Homo sapiens: one gene and its partner. The protein of the gene in region 1 purifies or fractionates together with the protein of each later gene. This does not show direct contact. Each region holds a gene or a part of one and is shown in the gene's direction. Other genes may lie near its edges.

Region 1 (2,987 bases):
CTTTAGAAGCCAAGTATGAAAGCTAGTTGTAAAGGAATATAGTTGGAATTATGAATTACTATACCTGCAGAACAGTAATAAAATAAAAATGAAAACATGTGAATTATAGGTCCCAGAGGAAAAAAGAAACAAAAATAAAATGCAAGCACAACTTGCTTTAGGGAATAAATGTGCAAAAGAGAACAATGCTTAAAATGGAAAGGATTTAATGTTTGCTTCTGGAATGTAGTTTGGTCCCTTGATGCAACAAGTAAGTTGTGATGAATATATTTCTATTTAAAATCTAGACACACAAAAAAGAGATTATTTTCTGAAAACTTCAAATGAATCAAAATATAATTGCATAGTCATATAGGGATATTAAATGTGTGCATTAAGAAAGGAAAAGACATGTTCAGTAGGGATTAGGAAATGAAAGATAAAAAAACTCTGGCAATAACTTGAATTTTAGCCCTGGATATATATTCACCATGTGACCTTGGCCAAACCATCTATACTTTTGGAAACACTGAGTCTTTATGTGTAAAACAGGAGTAATAATAGTTGCTTGGTGTTTCTTACGCAATGGTTATGAGGATCAACTACCATGATGGAAAAGACATTGATTGTTAAATATCTTGGGCAGTGCATGATCTAAGCAAGCTGCCACTAGATTAGGGTTTGCATGGGAAAACTGTTTGGGAAGGCTATGCTCTCTGGACCTGTCTAAAACAATTCCACACCTAGTTGACTCCACATACTATAGTTATAGTTAACCTGGGAGGCTACAACTATCAGAGGCAGTTTATTTCTTTATTATTTCTCATGAATATCTTGGAAAGGGAGAATGTAGAAGTAGGGTTTCTTGGGGAATTCTATTAAATTTTTTTTTCAAATAACAGATGGAACATTGAGCTCCTTCCCCTTTGTGGAAGGAATACCTAAGTGCACAGGCTCAGCAAAGTAAGGACACAGACCAATGTAGAAATCTGCCTCAACAGAGAAAATAATGTATAGTGGATTACTGGTTAAATTCACATAGAAACAAGCTATTTCTAAGGTGACACACAAAGCAAGCCGGAAGTTTCAGGGCATTTGGTGATCTTGTTGGGGTAACCATCATAAAAGGCTGGTAGTCAGTTTCAGTAGTTTATCCAGAGAACATGCCCTGAAGATTTGATTATCACCATCCAAACTCATAAGGAACCCCACAAAATAAAATATAAATATATATTAATTACACATGCAGTATATATTTTAAATCACTATATTTATTCATTCATTTAACTAATATATATTAAAGATCTATTATGTACGTGTAGGGATACAATAGCAAAATATTAAAACTTGTTACCTTTGTGAGCAGAAACAGATAGCAGATAATACCTTTGTGTGTGTGTGTGTGTGTGTGTATACATATATATATCTAACATACATACATATTGTAATGGGTTGAATGGTGGCTCCCAAAAATATATTTTCACACTTTCAACCTGGAACTTGTGATTGGGAACTTATTTGAAAAAAAAAGAGTCTTTGAAATATAATAAAGTTAAGGACCTCAAACTGAGACCATTCTGGATTATCCGAGTGGACTCAATGTCCAATGACAAGTTCCTTATATGAGAGAGAAGAGAAAACAGAGAAGGTGATGTGAAGGTAGAGATAGAGATTGGAGTTCTGCATCCACAAGCCAAGAAATACCTTGGGCCACCAGAAGCTGGAAGATATAAGTAATGATTCTCCCCCCCTAGAGCTGTCAAAGGAAGAGAGCCCTGATGACAGCTTGATTTTGGACTCCTGGCCTCCAGAACTATAAGACAATATATTTCTGTTGTTTTAAGCTACCAAGTTTGTGGTAATTTGTTATAAAAACCCTGGGAAATAAATACACATCCCAATTTGGGTGGCAATAAGTGCTATGGATGGGGAGGAAGAAAGCATGAAAGTATAATAGGAAGTGCTGCTGGAGATGAGAAATTTTAAATAAGATGGTCACAGAATCACCAAGTGAGGAAGAAATGTTTGAGCAAAAACCTGGAGAAGCTGTGAGAGTAAGATATATGGCTACTTTGGCAAAGAACATTCCAGGTAGAGAAACAGCAAGGGAAGATATGGAGTCTTGTGTAGTATGTTTGAGGGACATTGAAGAGACTGAGCAGCCAGAGCAGTGAGAAAAGGGTAAGCAGGTGATATGGTCTGGCTCTGTTTCCCTACCCAAATCTCATCTTGATTGTAATCCCCACATATCAAAAGGGGAACCTGGTGGGAAGTGATTGCATCATGGGGGTGGTTCCCCCATGCTGTTCTCATGATAGTGAGTGAGTTCTCACAAGATCCGATGGTTTTAAAAGTGTTTGGCAGTTCCCCTCCCACTTTCTCTCTCTCTCTCTTGCCGCCATGTTAGATGTGCCTTCCTTCCCCTTCGCCTCCTGCCATGATTGTAAGTTTCCTGAGGCCTCCCCAACCATGTGGAACTGTAAGTCAATTAAACGTTTTTAAAGTAAATTACCCAGTCTTGGGTAGTTCTTTATAGTTGTGTGAAAATGAACTAATACAGAAAATTCATACCAGGAGTGGGGCACTGCTATAAAGATACCTAAAAATGTGGAAGCAACTTTGGAACTGGGTAATGGGCAGAGGTTGGAACAGCTTGGAGGGCTCAGAAAAACACAGGAAGATGTGGAAAAGTTTGGAACTTTCTAGAGACTTGTTGAATGGTTTTGACCAAAATGCTGATAGTGATACAGACAATGAAGTCCAGGCTGAGGTGGTCTCAGGTGGAGATAAGGAATTTCTTGGGAACTAGAGCAAAGGTCACTCTTCCTATGCTTTAGCAAAGAGATTGGCAGCATTTTGCCCCTGCTCTAGAGACCTGTGGAACTTTAAACTTGGGAGAGATAATTTTCTGGTACCTGGCAGAAGAAATTTCTAAGCAGCAAAGCATTCAAGATGCAACCTGGCTTTTTCTGAAAGCATATAGTCATATGCTTTCATAAAGTGATGAT
Region 2 (3,500 bases), 5.2 Mb from region 1:
TCACCCGACCTTTCACATCATGGGGCACTCCAGCCTCCCTCCCTTCTGTTCTCCCCAGCCCCCTGGTGTCTTCACGCCTCACCTGCAGCATAGGCAGCAGGGCCCTGTTAGAGGGCTGAGTTGGTGGATGGACGTGGGCAGTCCTGGGAACCTTCCTAAAGCCAGTTTGCATTTGATGTTTCGGCTTATTCTTCGTAGGAAGTACAGTGACGTTTGCCATGTTTTTCAGACACACATGCTCGGACATCAAGAGTATTCTTCTTCACCGCTATTTCAGGTGCCAAGGACTTCAGGCAGGGAGCCCTCAGCTCCTTCCGGGAACCTCCCCCACCGGGGACTGCAGGGCCCTGGGCTGGGTTACCCCACCAGCTCCACGGAAGACCTCCAGCCTGGCCACTCCTCGGCCTCTCTCATCAAAGCAATCCGCGAGGAGCTCCTCCGGCTCTCCCAGAAACAGAGCACCGTGCAGAACTTCCACAGCTGATCGGCCTCGCCTCGCAGATTTGCCAAGTATCCGCTTCCTGTGGAAGCAAGACCAAAAGGAAATCAACTGAGTGGGTGTTTGGAAGAGGAAGGAGCAACTCTCGGGCAGCCTGCCCAAGGGAGGGAGCAAGTTGCAATTTAGAAGATGCCATACGTCGTGTGACAGCTCATGAGCCTTTCACTGGGCTGGCAATTGTCTGAACACTTGGGTTCAGTTGAAATATATGTATTTTGGCCAAAAGCCAGCAGCACTTCACAAAAACAAAACACAAACCTAAGCTAACAAAATGACTGCATTCGTCTCTTTTTTAAAGGTAGAGATTAAACTGTATAGACAGCATAGGGATGAAAGGAACCAAGCGTTTCTGTGGGATTGAGACTGGTACGTGTACGATGAACCTGCTGCTTTGTTTTCTGAGAAGAGGTTTGAAGACATTTTATTAACAGCTTAATTTTTCTCTTTTACTCCATAGGAACTTATTTTAATAGTAACATTAACAACAAGAATACTAAGACTGTTTGGGAATTTTAAAAAGCTACTAGTGAGAAACCAAATGATAGGTTGTAGAGCCTGATGACTCCAAACAAAGCCATCACCCGCATTCTTCCTCCTTCTTCTGGTGCTACAGCTCCAAGGGCCCTTCACCTTCATGTCTGAAATGGAACTTTGGCTTTTTCAGTGGAAGAATATGTTGAAGGTTTCATTTTGTTCTAGAAAAAAAAAATCCCTCCCAAAGTGGGGCAAAAAGCTTTATATTTATTTGATTATCCAAAATACAGATCAAAGTTTAGATCTACATTCTTCATTGTATTTGCTGTTTCTTAATTGGGCACACACAACTCCTGGTCATGTCCCAGTTCAGCACCGATCGCTAAGGCCGATCCTGTAGAATGCGGCTTTCAAGAGGTCCTAACTGATCCTTTCTTCCACTTTGCTGTTGATTTGTTCACAAATTATGTCTGAATGAGAAATCTTCTGTAAGCAGAAGTTATTTAATAATTCCCAGCACCACGAAATTGTTATACATACATCCCTACCAGTCACATTCCCTGTGTTCAGAGCCTGGAAATGAAATTGAGTTCAGTTCAGCCTCTCTGTAATGAATCAAGAAATGTAAAAGAGCTTTGAGACCCCAAGGGAAAGGAGAGAGTTGCTTCTCATTTCTGATTTTATTGTGCTGTTACTCTGTCGAGTGGCTATTAAAATTGTCTTATGCTCTTTGGGCTAAGAGGGGATCATCTCGCTTAAGATGTACTCCTGATGTAAACATTTCCCCCACTTTCCAAATAATGGTAAAGAAAACAGTGGCAAGGGCTGTTCTGTTTTCTGGTACCTGAGTGAAACTCAGAAGAAAAGCAGGCTTAGCTAAGAGATTTTCACTATTAACCTGTTTTTATTAGATCAGCGAAGACAGTCATGCATCGCTTAATGATGGGGATGCATTCTGAGAAATGTGTCATTAGGCTGTTTTGTTGCTGTGCCAACATCCTAGATTGTACTTACACAACCTACATGGTATAGCCTACTACACACCTGGGCTGTGTGGCATGGCCTATTCCTCTTAGGCTACAAACCTGTACAGCATGTTACTGTACTGAACACAATGGTAAGTATTTGTGTATCTAAACATAGCTAAACATAGAAAAGGTATGGTAAAAATACAATTTTATAATCTTATGGGACTACCATCAATATGTAGACCGTCATTGACCAAAACATCCTGATGTGTGCATGACTGTACTTTTCATTAAATAACAGATAAGGGGCTATAGAATTTGGGGCTCTGACTGATCAAAACCTGTGTATCTGTGTCAAGTTTTAAGACCCCTGAAACAGCTAAAACAGGTTTCCAAAGTGTAATCACTGGATTTCAAAACCATGTTTTAGCCCTTCATTAATGAAGCCTGTTGTACAGATTTAGAGTCTTACAATATGAGGGAAGTTGGTTCTGGGAAGGTAAGATGTAGCCAGTTTTCATCTGGGCACCTCTGAAAGAGAAGGAGTGCAGGAGAGTAAGTCTCTCAAGGACGTTCAACAAAGGACCAGCAGCATCTTATCAGGCGATCCTCAGAGGCTCCAAGGAGCATTGGAGAGAATGCCCCTTTCTGGGCTTGATGTCTTGGTTTTGGTTTAATACCAAATTTCTCTTGGTCTTGGTTTAATACCCGACTCCTCCCAAATTGAACGATTATCTTTGTATGTCACTCAAAAATACCAGGTTTCCTGAATATGTTATTAAGAATTTCAGATATCCAAGCAGAATTTTATTATGGACACCTTGTAATGAATTCAAATCGTGTGACAGCAAACGGGATAAATGGCCCCTTCTCACCCAGTTCCGCTCAGGGCCATACAGGCTTGCACATAGAGTGTGCTAAAAATGGTAACCTCCTTTGAGCATTGCAGAAAGAGGGTTCTGTTTCAAATTGGGCTGACCGTAAAAGCAATTTTGATGTCTTTCAAACTACCATAAAGGGATTTTAACTGTATTTTTATTCTTAGAAACAATACACCTTTAAACAGATGTCAAGACCAAAGATGATGTATAATAAACAGCCGGTGGTTATGGTGTGGTGTGAGCAGGCCCCCGGATCACCAGCCCTCTGCTGGTGGTCATAAAGCACACACAGTTTGTACTTGCTTCCTCTCGACGCCTGCCACAACAGTTTTGCCAGTCACCAAACTCAGAAAAAACTAGCTGTGTGAGCAGCACCGTACCCTAGCGGTCTTCAGACATTAAGTTCACGTCATCCACTGAAAGGAAGGGTCCTTGCGTTGACAGCGTGTGGCTTTGGAGTCCGTTTATGGAAGCACTCTACAATGAACAGTTGAATTTTATGTCTATTCTTTTTTCCTATTTTAAAAGTTCTAGTGGTAACACAAACTGTAAATTTGAGTCAGAATGTTTGGAGAAATGTTGTTTTTTTTTTTTTCAGAGACTACTTTGTCACTCACTGACCATGTCTGGTTCCTTCTCTGAACTTCATTCTCCCCATAAGCCAAACAAGAACAGACC

Evidence for each region.
Region 2: the proteins of OR6B1 (region 1) and KIAA1549 purify together in Homo sapiens (affinity purification with mass spectrometry; one large-scale study listed by BioGRID and IntAct). This does not show direct contact.

Annotation. Positions count from the first base shown.
Region 1 is NC_000007.14:144,006,307-144,009,293, forward strand, and holds the end of OR6B1 (olfactory receptor 6B1), read left to right. Parts: 3' UTR 1-2,487; downstream 2,488-2,987. UniProt on the Homo sapiens protein: Odorant receptor.
Region 2 is NC_000007.14:138,834,890-138,838,389, reverse strand, and holds part of KIAA1549 (UPF0606 protein KIAA1549), read left to right. Parts: intron 1-229; coding exon 230-484; 3' UTR 485-3,500. UniProt on the Homo sapiens protein: May play a role in photoreceptor function.